Regions from separate parts of the Homo sapiens genome. Here regions 1 and 2 are each linked to region 3. The links come from fine-mapping of genetic effects on gene expression. A gene starts in region 3. Each other region holds a variant in brackets. All regions are shown on one strand. Distances are from middle to middle. Region 1 overlaps BTD (biotinidase). Region 2 overlaps BTD (biotinidase). Region 3 holds the start of BTD (biotinidase).

Region 1 (4,243 bases), 52 kb after region 3:
CTGGCCAATATGGTGAAACCCTGTCTCTATTGAAAATACAAAAATTAGCCGGCATGGTGGCACACGCCTGTAGTCCCAGCTAGTCGGGAGGCTGAGGCAGAAGAATCGCTTGAACCCGGGAGGCGGAGGTTACAATGAGCTGAGATAGCACCACTGCACTCCAGTCTGGGCAACAGAGCGACACTCCGTCTCCAAAAAAAAAAGATACTGCAGCTTCTATCTTGGTTGCTCACTTGCTATCTTGGGTCCCTCCCTCTGGGGAAAGCCAGTTGCCATCTCCCAAGGATCCCTATGGACAGACCCATTTGGCAAGGAACAGCCACCAGCTAGCTGCATGAGCGAGCCATGTTGGAAGTGGGTCCTCCAGCTGCAGTCAAGCTTCCAGATGACCACTGCCCTGGGAAACGACTGCAACCTCATGAGAGACCCTGAGCCGGAACCACCCCACAAAGTCACTCTTGATTTCCTAAGTCTCAGAAACTATAAAATATAAATGTGTGTTGTTTTAAAATCCTAGGTTTTGAGGTAATTTATTATACAGCAATAGAAAACTAATACAATAGTCTTGCTACCAGCACCTTAATCTCCCACATCCAAGTTAAAATTCATCCAACACTCAATCTCCCAGCTATCCTGACTGCTCCTATACAGGTATCTCTCCCACTATATATATATCAAGTGCTATTAGTGGCTATTATTTGTTGGGTTACACAAAGCCAGAAATCATCTACATCTACTCTCTTTTCTTCTGGTTTTGAATAGCAAAATGCAACAGGGAGATGTTCTCAGATAGAGGGAGAACAACAAAAAGAAGGGTCCATGCTGAACAAACTTGTTTGCTTTGAAATCGGAAGTTCTAGAGGAGGTATTCTGACAGTGGCCAGGAAAACCTCCTGCCCGCAGAATTTTGTCTAATCCACCCCAGACAGAGTTATCCAACAGCCTGGTATGGTGCAGACCAGGGGCTCTCGAAAGGTGGGCTCCAGGCAGCAGCACCAGTAGCACCTGGGAAATTGTTGGAAATGCAAATTCTTGGGCTCCACCCCAGATCAACTTAATCGGACTCTCTGGGAGTAGGGCCCATCAATCTGTGTTTAACAAGTCCTCCAGGTGATTCCGATCCTAATCAAGTGTGAGCCCACTGTCTAATGCGGTGCATACCAAAGCAGGTGCACGGGTCTTAATCATCACCTCAGTCCTCTGAAACAGGCAAGTGTGTCCATTTTACAGAAGAAGGAACTAAGGCCTGGAAGGCAAGTCCTTGCCTGAGACTAAACAGAATCCCAGCAACATAGGACGAGGCTGGAATTCCCACACCTGGACTAATGCACAGCCAGTGTTTCAACGTCGCCAACCCAGAAATGTTTTCTCTCCCTGTCATGCTAATTTTCAGCCCTTTCTGGGTGACTTGTTCATCATCCAAATATATTATTTTTGTTTTGTTTGACTAAAGGCAATTATATTTACATTTTCTCTAAGTACTGGAATGTAATGGTTGAAATTCCTATTCAGTGATCTGGAAGAACTCTAATGTTCTAAAGTGATTCTTTGATAATTAAAGAAAGATGTAATTATGTATAATGTGATTTGTAAGATAAGGTATAACTTTGGGGGTGTTCTAATTCTTTAAAAATTGTTGATCCGACTATGGATGTCTTGCAACTCTCAAAAAATCACGTGTGAAAGTTAAGCATTAGTTCCGTGTAAAATACTGTGCTAGAAATTGTGGAGGATGCAAAGTCACATAAGACTGTTACTGTTTTTTAAAATTTATTTTTTAAAATAGAGACAGGGTTTCTCCATATTGGCCAGGCTGAATCTCAAGTGATCTGCCTGCTTTGGCCTCCCAAAGTGTTGGGATTACAGG[C/T]GTGAGCCACTGCGCCCGGCCAAGACTGTTACCTTTAGCGAGAGCTTATTATCACCTAGTGTTCATATAAACATGGGATTTAAATACACACACAACCCCCAAAACAAATTGCTAAAAGATATTTGTGCAGATTTTATTTTTCCAAATGGCTACAACAGTATTTGAAGAACTAACAAGTTTAAAAATGTAAAAGGCCAGTAAGGCAACATTGGGCACTGGGGCAAGTGAAGGGGAGGGAAGGAGCATGGAGTCAGGGGAGAGGGCATTGGCTGGTTCTGCAGGCTCTGCAGGCTGGGGGAAGAGTTAGGGTTTATGTGGGCAGACAGCATTGCAGGGGATTAGGCAGGGGAATAACATGGTCATTTAAAATGATTCTTCTGGCTGATGACAGGTTTTCAGATGCTTCACCTCCTCCTAAGTCAGTCACACCTCATATCCAAGCCATGAGGACTCACTGAGGGGAATGTAATAAATAGCTATTTAAGGGAAAAATAACAATTAAAAAATCTATAATAGCAGTTTAAGGGACAAAAACCAAAACATTTCTTTGGAATTATTCATGTTAAGCTTAACATTTTCTAATATAGTCCTGCATCCTTTTTTTTGTTTTTGAGATGAAGTCTCACTCTGTGGCAATCTTGGCTCACTGCACCCTCTGCCTCCCGGGTTCAAGCGATTCTCCTTCCTCAGCCTCCTGAATAACTGGGATTACAGGCATCTGCCACCACACTTGGCTAATTTTTTTTTTTTTTAGATGGAATTTTGCACTTGTTGCCCAAGCTGGAGTACAATGGCATGATCTTGGCTCACTGCAACCTCTGCGTCCCGGGTTCAAGCAATTCTCCTGCCTCAGCCTCCCATGTAGCTGGGATTACAGGCATGCGCCACCATACCCGGCTAATTTTGTATTTTAGTAGAGACGGGGTTTCTTCATGTTGGTCAGGCTGGTCTCAAACTACTGACCTCAGATGATCTGCCCGCCTTGGCCTCCCAAAGTGCTGGGATTATAGGCATGAGCCACCGCGCCCGGCCTGCATCAGTTTTTAAAAGACATCAGACACGTCAAAGCCACAGGAGGAAAAGCCCCTACATTCATGCACAACAGAAAGGCTTTGTTTTCAGTAAACACGCACATCTTCAAAGAATGGTTGCAATCCAAATTGTTTAGTAACTATTAGAGGAACAAAGAAGGCTGTGTCCTCTGAATTATAATGTGCATATCCTCTAAATTGCTGCATATTAGGGGTTGAAGCATGCTGGGAGTTTGACGTATGTAAGGAAAATTATTAGGTTGATGGAATATAAAGATACTTATAATAAAAGCCAGTATTTTGGCATTTATAAATGAATCTGAAAAGGGTGAAGAACTTCATTGTTTTGCAATTAATACCACAAAATGTGGCCCTTGTGTTCTACTGGCCCCTGAAAATTGTTTCAGATCTTTCCTTGGTGCAGTGTATATTGAATAGTAAAAGGGACATATGTCACAAAACAGATTTATTCCTACAAATTTACATAAAAAATAAGAAGTGAAAAAATAAACCCAGATTTTGAATGCGCTGGCTTGGGAGCCCAGAGACCAGGCCTGGCTTGCTTTTAAATTGTTGTGTGACCTCAGCCATGTACCTGTGCCTCTCAAGGCCTAAGGTCCTCTCTCTGTAAAAGAGGGGACTACATGAGATGATTTCAGCTCAAATATCCTTGGAGACTCTCATTGTTTTCTAGTTGTAAATTATGCTTTTTCTAATAGTAAATAAGAAACGAAACAGTATTCATGTATGACAGAGAATACTTTGTTGTTTTTACTTTGTTTTGTTTTTGAGACAGAGTCTCACTCTGTTGCCCAGGCTGGAGTGCAGTGGCATGATCTCGGCTCACTGCAACCTCTGCGTCCCGGGTTCAAGCAATTCTCCTGCCTCAGCCTCCCATGTAGCTGGGATTACAGGCTCCTGCCACCATGTCTGGCTAATTTTTGTATTTTTAGTAGAGACAAGGTTTCACCATGTTGGCCAGGCTGGTCTCAAACTCCTGACCTCAAGTGATCCACCCACCTCGGCCTCCCAAAGTGCTGGGATTACAGGCATGAGCCACTGCACCCAGCCTACTTTGTTATTATTATAGATGTAAGATACAATGAATTTCTCTGAGTTTCTCTTTAAAGATTTAGCCTGCTAACTTCCTTGACCTTTGTTTTCAAACCTCAACTTTTCTGTTCCTCCTTGCCCCTAGTTATTGTAAAATAGCCTACCCCCTTCCCATCAGTTCTAATCAATACCTCACATCTGTTGCCTTGGTTACCTGCACCCATTGTTCCCCTCAAACTGCATGTCTCACACACTTCACCACTGTACCTCACGTCCCCTTCCCCTCCATATT
Region 2 (4,234 bases), 47 kb after region 3:
GGGACTGCCGTGAAGGGCATGAAGGGTGGCCCACTTTAGTCATGCATTTATTCAATCACCCAACAGGCACAGAGCAGGAGCTTCCCATGTTAGGAATTCCAGATGCAAAATTATCAGACTCAATATGGTGAAGACATTTTTAGGCCACTGATTTCTGTGTAATTTGTGTCCAATATTTCAAAGCCATTTAAAAAAGGATTTTGACTGCATGCCTAGTAGCTGTTTCAGATCATTTTTTAAGTACAGAATGGATAATTAGTCTTCAGTGATTTGCCTCTTAAATGTGGCCATTTAGTTTGAACTCCTTTTTAGTTATTTTAAACAGTATATGCTTAAACATCACACGATTTTATAAAGCAAGAAAAATGAAATGATCTCCCTATTCCCCCACGGTGTAGGCCTCCAGATCCTTTTCTGGCTTTTAGGCAGGACAATTAACAATGTGGATTCTGCAGTCAGACTGATGGGGTTTCCATGCATGGCCTCACCATTAACTCCTCACTGGGGAGACCTTGGGCCTCGGTTTTTTATTCATAGAATGCATGTTGAATAAACCATGTGGGAAAAAGCAGAGCCAGCACCAGCCCCTGCTGACTCACTGATCCCTCGGAAAGGTCTGGGATGAGTCAAGTCTTCAGGGAATAAGCAGCAAGGACTTGGAATTCCTGAGCAAGCCTTGGGTTCCCCACGCCCTAGGAAGTCCCTCTGGAAGGGGAGCAGGACCTCTCCCACCAGATGACGGAGTTCGCTTTCTCGCCCAGCGCAGCTCCCACCAGGCGTGAGCTGGCAGTCCAGAAGCGGCCCCAGATGTGGCTACCCACCGCCCAGTCTGCTTCCCTGCCTCAAACCCCAGGGAGACAGAAATTACCTAAAAATGCATATCATTGCCTTATGCCAAGATGATTCAAATAAGCCTGAGAAAGAGAGGCCAGCGCTAAATACAGACTTGGCAGAACTACTTCACCCAGTAAACATCTAATCAGCACCTGCAGGATCCTCATTCTGCCCTTCTGGGCAGAGCACCACGAACTTTCCCTGAGTTATTTTCTACCAACAATTTAGAATGAATTGCTCGTGAAGTAGAAATGAGGGGAAAAGCAACTAATGGTGGTAGAACAAAGTAATTTTTACAATTAAAAGAAGTAGCTGCCAGATGACAGAACAAAGTAGAGGACGGGAAAATAAATCATTTTCAGGGAAAAAATATATCTATGACTAATGGTTGTGATTATGTTTTTGTCGATTGTGATCCTGAAACTCAGGAAGCAAATGGCAATCTTGACCACAACATGGAGACAGGAAATCAAATGCATTTTTGGCTAAACCAGACTTGGGGGAAGTGGCTTGGTTTGCGTGGTTTCTCATGTAGGTGCAGCTGTGCTTTTCTGTGGTTTTTCTCACACGGGAAGTGAGAGGCACAGTGAGCTGTATTCACACTGGATTTAAAAGCCCTGTTCTTAGAGAGGAAAAAACCAGGCCTCCTCACAGACTGCCAAGTCCCAGAGCCCACCATGTCTGCTCTCAAGACACAGGCCTGTCCAGAGCCCCTGCTGAGGGAAACCCACCCAGGCCACTTTTCCCCACAGGTGGCCCTGCTTGGTACCTGTGCCCCCACCCCCCAGCCATGGTATATTGAACCAGGAGGAGGCACCCAGCCCAAGGCCAGCCAATCAGAGCACTGGCTAGTAGCCCAGGAGGTGTCCCTGCACAGAAGATCTCCTCAGAGAGGACCGATGGTGAGTCGGCCGCTCTTGATTCTCAATGAAACTCAGAACCGCTCAAGTGAAATGACCACTCAAAGAACAATTTCTCAACAAAGTGGATTTATATAGGACAAAATAGGCATAAAAGTATGAAATGTTTTGTGCACAAAGGCCTAGATTTGAGACAAGAGCTGATGTGGCCTGAAGATCTGTGAGTGGGACTGCTTGGGAGGCCATGTTCCTTCTCAGGCCAGAGAAAGGTCCTGGTCTCCTGGCTTCAGTCTTTCATTCCCTAACCTCCCTTTGAATGTTAGTTACCTATTCCCACATAACAAAGTGCCCCAAAACTTAATGGCATAAAACAAGCATGGACATTGTTA[G/A]TTCACCCAGTTCTGTGGGGCAGGAAAGCGGGTCTCTCATGAGGCTACAGTCAAGATGTCAGCCGAGGTGACAGTGAAGATATCAACCAAGGCTGCAGCCGGTTGAAGGCCTCACTGGATTTGGAGAATATTATTGATTAAATTGCGTCTTCCCCAAAAAAGATACGTTGTAGTCCTAACCCCCAATAGCTCAGAATGTGGCCTTATTTGGAAATAGGGTCTTTGCAGATGCAATGAAGATATAAGTTAAAATGAGATCACACTAGAGTAACTGGGCCCTTAATCCAATATGACATGTCCTTATCAGAAGAGGAGAAGACACACACACAGGGAGAAGATGACCATGTGACAACAGGGGCAGAGATCACAGGGATGCCTCTACTAGACAAGGCACACCAGAAATTGCTTGCCAACAAACACCAGAAATTAGAAGAGGCAAGAAACAACTCCCCACACACAACCCACCCCTGCAGGTTTCAGAAGAAGCATGGCTCTGCCAACACCTTGATTTTGGATTTCCAGCTTCCACAACTATGAGACAATAAGTTTCTGTTGTTTGAAGCCACCCAGTTCAGGGTACTTTGATATGGCAGACCTAGGAAACAAATACAGAGGATCACTTGCAAAATGGCCCATTCACACAGCTGGCACGTTGGTGCTGGCTGCTAGCAAAAGGTCTCAGCTCCTCACCACTTGGGTCTTTCCATAGGGATAGCTGAGTGTCCTCATGATGTGGCCCCTGGCTTCCCCTGAAGCAAATGATCCAAGAGAGCACAGGTGGAGCCATGATGTCTTTTATTAACTAGTCTCAGAAGTCACACTGCATCATTTGGCACCATCTTATTGAGTTACACAGGTCAGCCCTGCTCCCTATGGAAAGAGACAGAGGGTGTTAGATGCCCAGAGGTGAACCTCATTGGGTACCATCCTGCAGGTGGGCTGCCACTCTGCTCAATCCAAATCACAGCTCTCCCGTTTCTCACCTCCCAACAGTTGCTGTTCCTCAGGCCAAAGTTCACATTCTGCACAGCCTCAGCTCCGCCTGACCTCTGAGCTCACATGATGGCCCTTACTGTGAACCTGGGTTTCTGGTCCAGCCATAGCTACTTCTTTAAGCTCCTCCAGTGTGCTGAGCACAGTCTGGCCCCTGTACTGTTGTCTGCTTGAAATGGCGTCTTCTGATGAACACTCATCCATCCTTCAAGGTCTACTCTCTCATCACAGCTTGTGACTCTTCCACTTTTTGAACTGGTGTTTCCCATTCCCAGTTCACAGAGCCCTTTCTCATTGAACTATTTATCTGAGTTCCCTCTGCCGGAACATGAGCCATGCCTAGAGTAGCCACCTAGTAGTGAGTGACAGCTCTGTGCTGGATGCACATAAATGGTCTCCCTTAACTGCCATGAGCCCTAAAGAAGGTTTGCTACAGCTATTTTACAGATGGGGAAAACTGACAGAGAGATATTAATGAATTGCCCACATGCAAATATGTGCTGAGTCTTGGATTTGCATCTTTATCGTGACTCCACGGAGACCCACCCTCTAAGACCAGAGCCAGTGTCCTATTCATCTTTTGTCTCTGCAGCGTTCAGCATGGCACTGTCTTGGCTTACAAAATCTGCTCTATGCTTGCTGACTGCTGAATGAATGAATGAATGAATAGGTAGTCACAAAGAATGTTTAGAATGTTTCTCAGACAGGCTGAGAAAAAACACAACGAAACATTATTTCCGTTTGGAAAGTTTTTTTATTTTTGTGTTCAGTACTGAAGTAAAACAAAAATCTGAATAACAGCTGCACCGTTAAAAATGAAATTACCAATATATGAACTCTAGGCATCATGCATATATAATTTTTTGTAGATAACTTTTCTTCTCATTTTCCTTCTCATTCTCTTCATCTTTTTCTTTTTGTTTGAGCAAAAAAAAAAAAGAATATATTAACTCGTAACTGGGGAGTCTAAGAATAAATTCTCTTCAGCCATTGCTGAATCTAGGGGCTCAAATGGTGTCTCTGGACACAGTATCACACTCTACTCTGCACTCTTCTTTATCATTTTCTCCCACAGACAGACTCTCGTGTAGTTGCAACAATGGCCATGACTTCTAGGCTTCATCTGCCCCTCTCAGCAGCTCTAGAGAAGAAGCTCCT
Region 3 (4,243 bases):
AGTCACCCCTTCTGTGCTACTACATCTATTGTGAGAGTTATAATAGATGAGTCTTTTTCTGTAAGTCTTACCCTCACCTTCCAGGACTGATCAACGTGAAGATCAAGACTAAACCTCACTCCTTCTTTACATCCCTCTCTCCTACAGGTTATGTAGCACAATCCTTAGTATACAGTACTTAGTCAATAAATGTTTGCTGTATGAAGAAATCAGTGGCAGATATGTCATCTCTACAAAAACAGTTAAGTATAGGTTCCATTCATAGGTCAATAGCTTCATTTTTTCACACAGATGAAAGAACAGAATGTTGTTCTAACAAAGACAAGTAAAATGTAGAAGCAACAGAAACTCAAAACCTCCTAGTTTTAAGATTAAAAAATACAAATCTCAAACCTTGTAGATAAAGAATGTCATTCAATAAAGAATGTCATTCAATAAAGAATGTCATTCAATTAATAAATAATGTATAATATTAAGCATCTACACCACGTGAAAGCACAAACCAAGCCAGGCACTGTGGTGATATAACAAATGAATCACAACTTCTGCCCTCCAGGCACTCATGTATGATGGCAAAAGGCACCACTTAGGGTGGCCAGGCAGTTGTTTGGGCAAGAGGAGGCAAGAATTTAAATTAGAAGGCAACGGTGGGAGTGTAAAGCAGGAATATTTAGCCTCAGCTGGACTGAGAGTATGTGATATCACAGAAGTGGATTCTTGACCTTTCAAGCCCGCACTACTGAGAGAAGAGCAAGGTGGATTGGCAGAGGATGCACTTAAAGTGGATTGACAAAACGTCGTATCTTCCTTATCCTGCTTCCAAATAAGCCTCTAAGAAAGGTGGCAGCATGATGTGGTGGAAAAAGCATCAGGCTAGGATCTGAGCCATCTGAGTTTCCATCAAGGCACTACCATTTGTGATATCCTCCACCCTGCCCCGAACCAATCATACAACAAAGCCTTGGCCTTCACTCATTTATCCCACAGGTAATCTCTGAACACCTTTCTTATGCAGGCACCACACTAAGCACTGGGGGTACAGATGTGTCGTGAAGAAATAATATCCCTGCTCTAATGGAGCTTGTAGCCTAATAGGGAAGTCAGACTTTACTCATAAACTGTCCATTCCAATCATGACATACAGTATAGTAGTAAGAGAATGGACTCAGACCCAGAATACGTGGGTTCAAACCCTGGCTCTGCTACTACCAGCTGTGTCACCAAAGGCAAGTTTTACTTAACCTGTGTCTTTTCTCATCTGTCAACTTGGTGTAACAACAGTTAATATTCAACAGTGATTGATATGATATATGTAAAGTAGCAGAAGAGTGGTAAGCGCTATCTGGGTGTTTGCAATGCATACCTACCGCTATTACTGATCATTCCCAGTAACGCATTCAGCCACCTGAGTCCATACTCACCGCTTGCTCATTCCTCATCCCGATGTACTTGATGCCTAGCTGCTGGGCAGCAATGGCGATTTCGGTCACTGGGATGCCTACGATGCCAAATATGTACTCCACATCCTGAGGAACGAAGAACAGGGGAGTAAACTCCCAAGGCCCCACCATATCGCCACATCCTTCCCTCCCTCCCGGGCGCTAAAAGGAAAACCCCCCGACCCCCATCGCCCATTTCTACTCGTCTCCAAGACAACATCGCGGTCCCCGCCAGCTTCCGTAGGAGCCTTTCATTCCAGGAAGGTCCATCGTACTTGCGTTTTCAGGGCCTGAGCGATGACTTTAGCACCAGACACCTGCTCCTCGCTGCGCTCTGCGAAGTTACTGTCCGGCATCTTCCACCGAAAAGCTCTAAGCACTCACGCAGCCGGCAAACAAGCGGAATCATCCAGCAAGGCAAACGCGAAATCGGCAGCACGCCACCTCTGGTACTGCACCTCTGACGGACAGGAGGGCAACCAACTGCCTTAAACAACGGGAAGGAAGAGGCGGTCTAAATTCGTCCACTTCCCGGGAGAGGTGAGAATGTAAACACGCGCGTTCTCCAATCAGAACTGCGCTCTCTTCTCGGCTCCTCCATTCGCGCGCCAGAATGCCAGAGGGAGGCGGGACTAGCAGGAGATTGCTGCCTATGCAAAGCAGGTAAGAAGCCGAACTCTGAGGCCTCTCGCCATTGTCTCCGAGTCGGCCAGCTGGAGCGTTTTCGGGGCTGTAAAGGGAGAATGGCGCATGCGCATATTCAGGGCGGAAGGCGCGCTAAGAGCAGGTACGGAGGGGGCGTGGTGCGGCGCGGAGGGGGTGTGGTAAGGGCGTGCGGTCCAGACCCCGCCCCGGGCGCCCAGTTGGACTTGGGGAGGGCTGCGCAAAGGCTGCCGGGAGCTGGGAAGCCCGGCGCGCGTCGTTTGCTGGGGCTGTTTGTGCGTTGCTGCTGTGCTACCGCGTTGCGTTTTCTAGGCATTTACTTACACGCTTTGTGGTTTACGCTCTCATAACCTTGTGGTTTTATAGTCCTTAAATTATTGTAGCGCACGTTACTTAAATCCAGAAGCAGATGTGTACCCCAGCAAGAGATAAAATGACGCTCAGAGTCAGTAGATCCAGACCGTGCCTGAGATCCTGAATCCTGTTTCCTACCCACTATTCAGCCATTGGGTCACAAGCGATGAAAAGAGCACCTTGAAGGTAGTATAGAGCACTGTTTTCTCCAGCCCTTGCTACTAATCCATATTACTCTCCGCTAATATCTTTCCAAAATTAGGAACTATGGCGTTTCATAATTCTTAGGTTGGGTCCCTACCTACAACCAGCCCTGCACCCGATAGCCTTTTAAAACATTTTTGTGTGAAAATCGTTTGCAATGTGCAATATCTGAAACTACTGCCTTGGAGTCATTAGACCCTCTGCTCAGTGACAATAAACATAAAATTTCCAATTGTAATAAACAGTGGAACTTTTAATTTTTTGAGGATTTGGAGTCATTTTAAGCAAAAAGAACAGTGATAAGTGGACAGTAAAGAGATGAGAGGGGAGTGGGTCATGGGTAGTGAAATGAGTGAGAAGCACTGGAAGTGAAACGATTTCTAAACCCAGACATTTTCAAACTGTAGTCCTGGGTCTTTTCAAAAGGTCTTCCCCTCTTTTTCTCAACCCCTCAACCCCACCCCAAGCAGAGGAGAGTGAAGTGGTTGCCTCCCTGCATATGTGGACGGTGTTAGTCCATTTTCATACTGCTATAAAGAAATACCCAAAACTGGGTAATTTATAAAGAAAAAGAGGTTTAATGGTCTCACAGTTCCAAATGGCTACGGAGGCCTCACAATCATGGCAGAAGGTGAAGGAGGAGCAAAGGCATGTCTTACATGGTGGCAGGCAAGAGAGCGTGTGCAGGGGAACTGCCCTTTATAAAACCATCAGATCTCATGAGACTTACTATCATTAGAACAGCATGGGAAAAATCCCCTCCCCATGATTCAGTTACTTCCCACTGGGTCCCTCTCACCACATGTGGGGATTATGGGAGCTATAATTCAAGATGAGATTTGGATGAGGACACAGCCAAACTGTTCTGCCCCTGGCCCCTCCCAAATATCATATCCTCACATTTCAAAACCAATCATGCCTTCCCAACAGTCCCCCAAAGTCTTAACTCATTTCAGCATTAACTCGAAAGTCCACAGTCCAGAGTTTCATCTGAGACAAGGCAAGTCCCTTCCGCCTATGAGCCTGTAAAATCAAAAGCAAGCTAGTGGCTGGGCGCAGTGGCTCACACCTGTAATCCCAGCACTTTGGGAGGCCGAGGCGGGCGGATCATGAGGTCAAGAGATGGAGACCATCCTGGTCAACACGGTGAAACCCTATCTCTACTAAAAATACAAAAAATTAGGCGGGCATGGTGGCAGGCGCCTGTAATCCCAGCTACTCAGGAGGCTGAGGCAGGAGAATGGTGTGAACCCGGGAGGCAGAGCTTGCAGTGAGCTGAGATTGGGCCACTGCACTCCAGCCTGGGGGACAGATCGAGACTCCGTCTCAAAAAAAATAATAAAATTAAATTTAAAAATAAATAAATAAAAGCAAGATAGTTACTTCCTAGATACAATGGGTGCACGGGAGTGAGGTAAATATACCCGTTCCAAATGGGAGAAATTGGTCAAGACAAAGGGGCTAAAGCCCCCATGCAAGTTCAAAATCTGGCAGGGCAGTCAAATATTAAAGCTCCAAAATGATCTTTGGATCATTTTGACTTCGTATCTCACAGCCAGATCATGCTGATGCAAGAGGTGGGC

What was found. PIP is the estimated chance that this variant, and not a neighbour inherited with it, causes the effect.
Region 1: its variant is the best candidate, but not a certain one, in a credible set for the expression of BTD in whole blood (INTERVAL, PIP 0.89).
Region 2: its variant is the best candidate, but not a certain one, in a credible set for the expression of BTD in whole blood (TOPMed, PIP 0.70).

Annotation. Positions count from the first base shown.
Region 1 is chr3:15,652,134-15,656,376 of GRCh38, forward strand. It overlaps BTD (biotinidase), which reads left to right. Exons shown (of 4, transcript NM_001370658.1): 4 at 1-1,581. Among named protein-coding and RNA genes, the nearest start is that of MIR3134, 43 kb to the right of the region's middle. The variant C/T (reference allele first, on the strand shown) is at 1,868.
Region 2 is chr3:15,646,435-15,650,668 of GRCh38, forward strand. It overlaps BTD (biotinidase), which reads left to right. Exons shown (of 4, transcript NM_001370658.1): 4 at 1-4,234. Among named protein-coding and RNA genes, the nearest start is that of BTD, 47 kb to the left of the region's middle. RefSeq lists an enhancer at 248-781 and a silencer at 1,208-1,502. The variant G/A (reference allele first, on the strand shown) is at 2,084.
Region 3 is chr3:15,599,669-15,603,911 of GRCh38, forward strand. It overlaps BTD (biotinidase), which reads left to right and starts at 2,077. Exons shown (of 4, transcript NM_001370658.1): 1 at 2,077-2,226. It overlaps HACL1 (2-hydroxyacyl-CoA lyase 1), which reads right to left and starts at 1,901. Exons shown (of 17, transcript NM_012260.4): 1 at 1,715-1,901; 2 at 1,422-1,526. The coding sequence starts at 1,795. RefSeq lists an enhancer at 1,806-2,448 and a silencer at 2,290-2,349.